Homo sapiens: one gene and its partner. The protein of the gene in region 2 purifies or fractionates together with the protein of the main gene of each other region. This does not show direct contact. Each region holds a gene or a part of one and is shown on either strand. Other genes may lie near its edges.

Region 1 (4,913 bases), on a different chromosome or scaffold from region 2:
ATTAATAGCAACACATCATCAGGTTAGTTGAAGTCAGGGTCAAGAGGAGAGTATTTGACCCTAAAATAAAGTTTCCTGCTATGAAAATGAAAACAGACAGATGGGGGTCTATGCAGACAAACATGATGGTTAAATGGAGAAAAATGGTTGGAATTTGGATATGAAGGAGAGAGGCCAGAGAAGTCTTTCTGGAATACTTACTCGAAGGTAAACGATGAAATCCTGGCACTGGTGGGATTTCTGCCTTTTTATCACAAGAGGGAAGACGCGATGAGCCTGATGGTTATCAAGGAAGAGCGTCCGTTTAATAGCTCCTTTCTGTTTCAGGGAATCTAATTGCACCTCTGCCATCAAGACTAAAGGACAGAAGTAAAGTAGAGAAAAAGTATTCAGTGAACACAGTGCTCTATCAGAGAGATGAATTTCTATTTCAAGTTGCTTATTCAGGAAACAGTTCTTTTTCATAGTTGAGACCAAGCATGATAAATGAGCTGGAAAAATTGTATAACATACTCTCCAAGCTACAAATGTTTTATAATGGTTTTATAAAAGTTGTCATTTTCCCTACAATTATATGTTCTTATAAATAATAGTATTACCAAGTATTGAAGTAATATTTATTAGAAGGTTCCATATATGCAACAGATATCTTGGTATTCCTCAAGGGTTCTTTCATTTTTTTATGGTCTGTGCAGAGAAATGGTTACTGTTCAACTTTCTTAGTATACCATAAGAATGTAAAAATGAAAACATGCTTACCTATTGTGTTTGCAATGCTCTGGCCTGTGACAGATGCACATACTCTTAAAGAAAAGCTATAGAAAATAGTAGTAATTTATTGGTTAATAAAGTTTTGAATCTAAAGTAGAAGCCTTCCTTTACCTAATCCCAGATAACGAATATCATTTTCTCTATATATTTCTAATTACACACACACACACACACACACCCACACACACACCCCTTCTACCAATTGATCTCAACACTAATACAATCAAGACAAGTGACATTATTATTACATGGAAGGTAATACTGGAAAATAGTACAGGAGGTTAACTGATTTAATCAGTTGCTCAATTAGTCAATTACTTGTTGCTTTTATTCAATGAATACAGGTCAGTATCTTCCATGTGCCAGGGAGGGAAGAATTAGGCAGCAGAGCAAGAGGATAGCCAGAGGTAAAATCTGGAGGTGAGTAAGAATCTGGACCCATTTGAGGAAACTGAAGAAATTCAGTGTAGTCGGGGCACTGAGCAAGATGGCAAAGTTGTAGGAGGCAAGGCTGGCTTGGTGGATCGGTGAGGAACAGGGCTTTGAAAGTCATGCTAAAAAATGCAGATTTAATCTTCAGAAGCATGGAGCACATGGTATGCTTAACTTAAAACACCCACTCTGCTTGGAAGGAGATGAAATTTGGCAGAACCTTGCTACAGTTGGGGTAAGACTGGAGGTTGAGACGAGAAGAGGGAGGGGAGAAAGAGAAAACAGGAAGTTTAGCATGGCTGTCTCAAGCTAGGTGGGCACAATGATATAGGAATAAAGACAATCAAGAGAGGGCAGATGTCCATGAGAGACACTTTGGAGTTGTGCCTTGAACACACCATCACTACCATTCAAGGCAATGTCTGCACTGGCTTATAGGATGATCTGCACTTGGCTTTGGTCTGTGGCTACAGATGGAATGAGAGACGACTGACTCCCTGGCTGCCTTTGTTGAATGAAAGTGCTCACCTCTCCCTGAAAAATTCCAAGCCCTAACAGCTATCACTAGAGATGGGGCCTTTTCACATTTCTAGGAAAGTGAAAATATAAGAAAATACTTAAGTATGGTTTAATGACAGTCATAAACTTTTACCAGTAAAATACTATAGTATGATGTGGATATTTCTACAGAATTCAAAGGGAGTAAATAATCCCCAATCATACTTTAATTATGTGTCAGCTTCCTGTGTCAAATATAATGAAAAAGTGTCACATCTGGGATTCATCTATCTGCTGTGACCTCAGTCAATGTCTCCCCTCAGGGTAAATAATTTGCCACATACCATTAAGCCAAAAGTTTCCTGAAATGTCTACGCTATTACAAGTGTTTATTCCGCTTCCCCAGAGAAATCACTGATTCCAACTTGCTTCTGCTTCAATTAGAATTATTCAAGAAAGATGAAGAGTTAATCACATCTTTCAATTTTGTAGTAAGCCTGGCTTTCAAAATTAGAATTTTTCTGTATCCAACCTTTTTGAAAGTATTTTGGTGTATGTTCAAATCAGCCAATGATCTTTTTTTCCATTCATCTTTAACTGTGTAGACCAAAGCCATTAGCTTTTATAAAATAAATTCCTATTTGTAATGACATTATCAACATATATACATTAAAATCATTTTAGATACAGTATTTTTAATACAAACAATTCAAAATAACTAATTTTTAAAAAGGAATAAAGTTATACAAATGAACATTTTTTTCCTTATGGGATGGTATATAGTTGATAAATGATGTTATCAGCTAAAGGGTTACTATTTATTTATGAATTACCTGTCAGTATAAATCTCTATTTCTTTCTTAGCTCACTCTTTCTGTTTTCTGAATATCATTACCAAATGGATGACTTTAACTTTTTTTTCATACAAGTGTAATATCACTGCTACAATGTACTGAATTCTCAATAATAGCACTCCAACCTAAACCTGCCAGTTAATAGATTACTTTAGTGGAAAAGAGTCTGTGAAGTCATAATTTTTCAAACTCTGTGTTATGATCTAAAGAAAATTTCAAGATTTTATAGTAGTGGGCTGATGTGTTCATGCTGAATTTAGGAAAACATACTATATTATATATAAGCACACATACATCACAGGTCATATGGAGCATAGAATTAGGATCACTTGCAGGCCTACAGCTAATTACAAAGTATACTTGGGTCATTAGGGAAAGCTGTAAACTTTCATTAAATTAGAATTAAAATTTCAAACTAGAAATATTGGTCATTTTCAGTATGGCCCATTAGTCTAAATAGGTCTGATTGGAACAAAAAAACCCATCAAATCAATCCAAGTCCCTTATTACATAAATTCTAAATTAAACTGTTTGTGGACAGTGCTTTTGATATGGCCAGAAGGCAGGGTGATACACTACATGATCTTCTGAGGCTAGTCCCAACCCAAGCACGGTTGGAATAATGATTCTGCGTTGTGACTGTGCTCACAGCTGTCTATGATGAAGAGAAAATGAGATAAATGTGAAACACGATTTAAAAGTACAAAGCAATTCATTTTACATTCTCATCAGTTTTCACTCCTATTTCAGTGATAGCAAATAGCAGGTTTCACACAGTCACTCACATCTGACAAGTTTTTTTAATCAGGTTGGACAACTGGGTCGTTACTCACTTTTACATTTCTAAAATGAAGTATTTCGCTAGTTTTTCTTTTTGTAATTGGTTAGTCACCAGTTATATTAATATTTATTGAGCTGGCTTTTTTCCCCCTTTTTCTAACTTAGAAATACCAATTAAAGATAGATACTTTATAAAACTACACCGCTGTTTGAAAGACACAGAAATCCACATCGATGGAAGTGAAGAACTATTTGCCAAGTAGAGTTTATGTGATAGTTTTCAGATGTATGATATAAAGTTATATCAAATACAGACACAAATAACAGCAGAGAAAATCAACGGAGACCTTTCAATCATTTTGGAAAAACTAAGCTAAGTTCCTAAAATAAAGAAAAAAGAGAATCAAAGAAACACATTCTAGACTGAACCAGCTGTTAACTTTCTGTCTTCTGAGGCTCTGAGGCACCATTCACAAATTTTGCATGTGAAAATAAGACTTCTTCCAGAAAAATGTATGCAATAGAAACAAATATAATTGTAAAGGGATATACATTTGTCCACATAACAAATTGCACTTTATCTTAATAATATGATTAAATGCAGTAAGAAAATGGCTCATGAAAAGAAAGACATTTTCTTGTTAAAAAGTAATATTCTTTCCATAAAACCAAACAGAACTCTTTTTTTTTTTTTTTTTTGAGACAGAGTCTCCCTCTGTCACCCAGGCTGGAGTGCAGTGGTGCGATCTCAGCTCACTGCAAGCTCCGCCTCCCAGGTTCATGCCATTCTCCTGCCTCAGCCTCCTGAGTAGCTGGGACTACAGGTGCCCGCCACCGCGCCCAGCTAATTTTTTGTATTTTTAGTAGAGACAGGGTTTCACCATGGTCTCGATCTCCTGACCTCGTGATCTGCCCGCCTTGGCCTCCCAAAGTGCTGGGATTACAGGCGTGAGCCACCGCGCCCGGCCCCAAACAGAACTCTTAATCTGGTTAAAAAAAAAAAAAAAAAACCACACACTTCAGTCTTATACAAATATGCATTAAACTAAAAACCCTTAGAATCAATTATCTAGTTCAAAACAACAACATTCTATATCAGAGTGTACCACATGTGCTTAAAGGAATTCAGCCTAGAAGTCCATTCTGTTATGAAGGTGTGAACATGAGCCTATTTGGGGGAAATACTGAAGTTTTAATACTCATGAACAAGTAGCAACTCTCACAGTTCATTGTTCATTTAATCATGCAGGGGTAAGGATAAACGCTGGCTCTCTGACATATTTTCTCAGATCAGGTTTTCATTATACTATTTTATGGTTTTAACCAAATGTGCCCAGGGCATTTTCCAACTCTTTTCAAGAGCAGTTAAAGAAGAGGATGCTCTCCCGCCACACTCCCCAGCTCCCAGCAATAGGATGTTTTTCAAAGAATTCTTCAGGGTCCTCTAAGTCCCCACCCTCCACCCTCAAAAGCTTTGACTCCAGTATGAACTCCTGTCAAAAGGCCATCAACAACATGTTAAAATTGGCTGGAAATAACTTCTCTGGGTCAAGAGTGGTTAGTTCTGCAATTCTGACA
Region 2 (4,913 bases):
TGGCTGGGGAGGCCTCAGGAAACTTACAATGACAGCAGAAGGGGTAGCAAACACATGCTTCAAATGATGGCAGGAAGGAGAAGTGCCGGGGAAAAGCTCCTTATAAAACCATCAGATCTTGTGGGAACTCACTATCACGAGAACATCATGAGGGTAACCACCCACATGATTCAATTACCTCCCACCAGGTCCCTCCCATGACACACGGGGATTATGGGAGTTACAATTCAAGATGAGATCTGGGTGGGGACATAGCCAAACCACACCGAGGTGGTAATCAGGGGATTATTTTTGCACAAAGCTTAGAACACAGAATGACATGTGAAGTTGCAAGCACAACCACAGACACCGGGGACAAAAGGGCTACAGGAAAGGCCCTGAGCAGAGCCCCAGACGAGGCTCCACCTGTGCGCCAGGGCATACACTGGCTGCACCCTCCCTGCTTGCTCCATTGGTCACTGGGCCTCTGGCCATACATCTTCTGCAGGTTAGGGCCCTGGGGAGAGAGGGCACCAGAGGGCTCTGAGGAAAAAGCAAGAGCATCCTGGAAGTGCAGGCTGTGCCCTGACCTCATGCTTGTCCTTCCCATCTGTGTGTGGTAGGTTTTTCCCTGGGGGGAGTCCATGGCCCATCCACTGCTTTGACCTGCCGAGCTGGAAGCACTCTCTAGACTACCAGAAATTGAATGGCCAGTGAGGACTCACCCAGGCAGCATGGGGTGTCTACACACACAACCAGGGACAGTAGAGGCTCTGAGGTCCAGCAATGCTCCTACCCCCTGGAGACGCTGCAGATGTGTGGACAGATTGTACTACTTTGCAGAGTACCTGGCTCTACAAGATGATGCATGCTGGCCTATCATGAGGCTGAGACCAAAGCGTGCAGAAACGCACTCAGGATGGGAGGACATGAGGGAAGGGGAAACAGAGCTGGGTGCAGAGAAGAAAGCAGACTGGCCCTGGCCCCAGAAACTACCCAGGTAGGGGACTAATCTACAATGTGTCAAAATGACAAAGAGGTACTTACGAATGGAGATTGTCATACAGCGCCTAATATGATACGGACATACTCTAATGTTGGGACAGTTGAAGTCATTTATGACCGCACAGTCATGGCATCTCAAACTGTAAGTCCCTGAGAGGGGAGAAAGCAGGCTTCAGGCTTCTGCTCCACTACGCCTTTTCCACCCATTACCAGCTCACTCCACCCTTCTTCAACGGCCAGCCCTTCCCCTCTGCTTCCAAGGACTTCTCCTAGCCTGCACAGCTCAGCTCTCTATGCAGTCTGAGTCTGGCCCAGGCTAGCTCCTGGGAGGGAGGCCAGGCACAAGGAGAGCTTTCCCTGCTCTCCAACGCAGGCTCCAGAGAGCGCCACTGGTGGTCACATACGGGATTGCTATGCTCTGCAGACCTGGCTCACCTCGCCAAGGAAGACTGGATACTCACAGGGGTCCGCCATCCTCCTGGGTTTCCCTGGACAGAGCCCCTCCTGCCTGGCGCTGATGGAGAAGGGCCACATCAAGGTTCCCCCTTGGTCCCTGGTCAGCTGCTCCTTCATCCTAACCCTCTCCTTGCTCATGACTACTCCTGGACTGCCCTAGTGCCCACCCCTGATTACACAGACAATGCAGGCCCCAGCTAACGGAGGCTTGCTCCACGTTGCAGCCAATCATCCCAGTGACCCCCAGCACCCCAGGTGAATTCTCGTCCTCTCCAGGACAGTGAGAGGGAATGATACTTACACTGAGCGCGCATGGTGGCACTGGCTGCCACCAATGGGAGCTCCATGGCTAGGAGTAAGGCAAAGAGGAGCATCACTTCACGCAGGAGCCTGGACCTGAAGGGAAGGAGCCCCATACAACACGTTAGTGAGCCATGGCTCCTTGGCCAGCTCTATGCCCCTGGCCTCAACGGCCTCATGAGTCTCCCTGACTCTGCCCACCTGAATGCCTCCCCCACTGGGCCAGTAGCTCCTCGGGTAAGGCACTGGGGTCGGGCAGGTCTCACCCACACACGAGGCTTCGCCAGGCCTGTGCCCTCACCTCAGACAAACTCGCTGTCACTCCTTGAGCCAGGGAGGTCCTGGGGCTGCTTCATGTGGCAGCTCACCCAAGGGTCCCCACGCTCCGAAATATGTTTCTGTATCTGCTGGTTGATTCTGAACCTCAACAGCGGCTTGTGAAATGTTCTCAAATACTCCGCCCACTGACGCGCTTCCCGCTCCCTCCGCCCACTGACGCGCTTCCCGCTCCCACACACAGCTCAGCAACACGAGGGCCAAGGTGACTACAGAAGGGGAGCGAGGGCAGAACATGCCAGAAGCCCAACTTGAAGGCATCCTCAGTGTCATTACGAGAGAACTCCCCTCCCAAAATCAAGTCTTCCTTCACCCTGGGCATCACCGAGCCATCAGCTAATTACTGGCAAGGGGAGGGTCTGGGGCACCTCACACCTGAGTCCTGATGCCAGCACTGTGGGCTCAGAAACGCCCCCCAGGTCACCAATCAGTTGCCACAACTGAGACATTTTCTCGCAGGGACCCAACTGCACCCTTACTCCTGCAAACGCACTGTCTCCATCCCCTACCCCCCTTCAGCAGCCCGACTCAAGGGGGAAGCTCCATCTCCCTGGTTGGGAGCAGGTCAGCCCGCAGTGCTCAGTGGGGCAACTCCCTGGGCCCAGCTGCTGATGCGTGCTGACTCCCCTCACGCGAAGGCCCCACCTGGAGGGGGTCAGAGCCTGATGTGTAGCTCCCTCCACCGCAGGAGCAGCTGGGGCTACAGAACTAGAAGCTGACTGTGCAGCAAGAAGCCACACCCCAGGGATAGGGATGATCAGGATCCAGTACCCACTTTGCCCCACCCTGTGTACCAAGTCCAGCGCCAGTGGGCGAGGCTGAGATTCAAAATGCCCCTAGCCCTAGGTCATCAAGTTTAGGAAAAAAGATGGGCTGGTACCTCTGGCATGCAGGAGACCAAGACTGGGGGCCTGTCAGTGTCCACCCTTGGAAGGGGCTCCTGACTCGTCCAGCCAGCCAGCCTCCCTAGGTGGATCTCCTACCCACTCCATGCCCATTCCCCTGAGACCCAGCAGCCCCGTCTCCACTCTGTCGTGCCTGCTTTCCCTGGATGCCTCCTTCACTCATCCAACACTTGCTCCCAAAGCTGGGCTCAAGGGCACCTACTGACCCAGAGCATGTACACTGAGGCCCTCTTCCTCCATGAGGGCACAGCAGACATTCTGAACACCCTTCTACTGTCAATGCCCAGAGCACATGCAGGAAAACTCCCATCAAGTGTGTTCACTGATTTCCAGCTGGATCTTGGGGTGGATGGGAAAATACCCAAGAGCTACAATGGAATACTAGAAGACAGCAAACTGGAAAGTCCACAGTAACTGTATGATTTCCTCGGGCACAGGTTGACACCCAGCTCCCAGAGCTTTAGGATTTTGTAGTAGAAGAGGTCCTGGAGACAGAGCCAGGGCCAAGGTGAGTGCGAAATGAGAGCTTGGATTCCTTCACAGAGCATGGATCCTCAAGACTAAAGGTGTCAGAGAAGCAGAGTGGGCTAGAAAATGTGGATCATCAGCATCAGCAAACAGAGACCCTGGTAACTTCAGGCCTCATCTTCCAGAGGATGCATGAAAACAGTGTGTTTCCCAGGAATTCCTTACCCAGAGGCTTTCTCAACAGTCAGTCTGGAGTTAGAACGTGTATGACTGTGTGATCATAAACCCCAGACACAAAAACCACTTGCAAGTGGTCATGAGTCATCCTCACCCTGGGAAGCCAACAGAAACCATCACTGGAGGGGGACATACCCTCCACTCAGACCCCGAGTCTCCGGTTGACTAATGACAAATACAAATGTGCCACAGATAACCAGAGGCACAGAAGTGATTAAGCCCCCAGGAGCAAAGGCAGAAGAAACAAAATCTCCAAGTTAGACTCCCAAGGAATTCCCATATAGGAATGATTGGAGGCAAATGTAAACATACAGCCTTGAAAAGTCAGGAAAAAATCAGGTCACTTCCACTTCTACATGGGATGCAGTAGGTTGTGGCTGCTCAGAATGTGACAACCAGGCAAATCAATCCACAGAGTTAAAAGTCACATTTGAAAGGCCCTTGGACAGATGTGGAAGCACCAAGGCCCACGTAAACTGAAATTCCGAAGAGGGCGAGCCCTTCCCAGGGTACCCTTTGTCATTGCAAATACATTTGTCACTTTGGGCACCAGCTGAAAGCCAGGCTGGCTACAGACAGGGACTCCAGTAGGGAATGCAAACCAGAGTGCCGTCTTGGCTCACGGGGAACCAAAGTGGCCCAGAATCTCCAGGTACCTAAAGATCAAGACAGTTTTCCCATGGAAGAGCCTCCAAGTGCTGTGGTGGGAGGGACCCTGGGGAGTCAGAGAAGGCCAAGTAGAATCCCCCCCAGTGTGGCAGATCCCAGGAGACAGAGTGCCCCTAGAAGGAGCCTGCCACAGTCATACCACTGGTCTCCATCATAAGCCAGTGGCCCCGATGGAACAGGTGTGTGGGATGAGGTTCAAGGGGAAAGTCAAAGCCTAGACAGGGAAACCTGTCCGAGCTGAGGATTCGGTGTGAAAGGTGAGCATACAAATTGGGTCACCCTTGTCACACCCAACTAAGGCAGAGTGCCAGGTAGGGAGACCATTCAGCACTCAGGATAGAAAACATTGCTCCAAGAATGTACTTCTCTGAGGCCTGACTGCTGAAACTGCCTGCGGTAACCTGAAACCAGTTTTATCTGATGGCTACTGAGACCACCTGCTGCAACTCTAAGCCTCGGTTCACCCACTGCTGTCACTGATTCACTCATCAACCAGAGCTTGCCAGCTCCCCAAAATCCTACTAGTGCCAATGAAACTCAGACAGCAATATGTACTAT

The links. The genes of interacting proteins can lie anywhere in the genome.
Region 1: the proteins of GML (region 2) and ITGA8 purify together in Homo sapiens (affinity purification with mass spectrometry; one large-scale study listed by BioGRID and IntAct). This does not show direct contact.

The regions. Positions count from the first base shown.
Region 1 is NC_000010.11:15,607,476-15,612,388, forward strand, and holds part of ITGA8 (integrin alpha-8 isoform 1 preproprotein), read right to left. Parts: intron 816-4,913; coding exon 760-815; intron 357-759; coding exon 202-356; intron 1-201. UniProt on the Homo sapiens protein: Integrin alpha-8/beta-1 functions in the genesis of kidney and probably of other organs by regulating the recruitment of mesenchymal cells into epithelial structures.
Region 2 is NC_000008.11:142,837,339-142,842,251, reverse strand, and holds part of GML (glycosyl-phosphatidylinositol-anchored molecule-like protein precursor), read right to left. Parts: intron 1,837-4,913; 5' UTR 1,815-1,836; coding exon 1,742-1,814; intron 1,135-1,741; coding exon 1,027-1,134; intron 1-1,026. UniProt on the Homo sapiens protein: May play a role in the apoptotic pathway or cell-cycle regulation induced by p53/TP53 after DNA damage.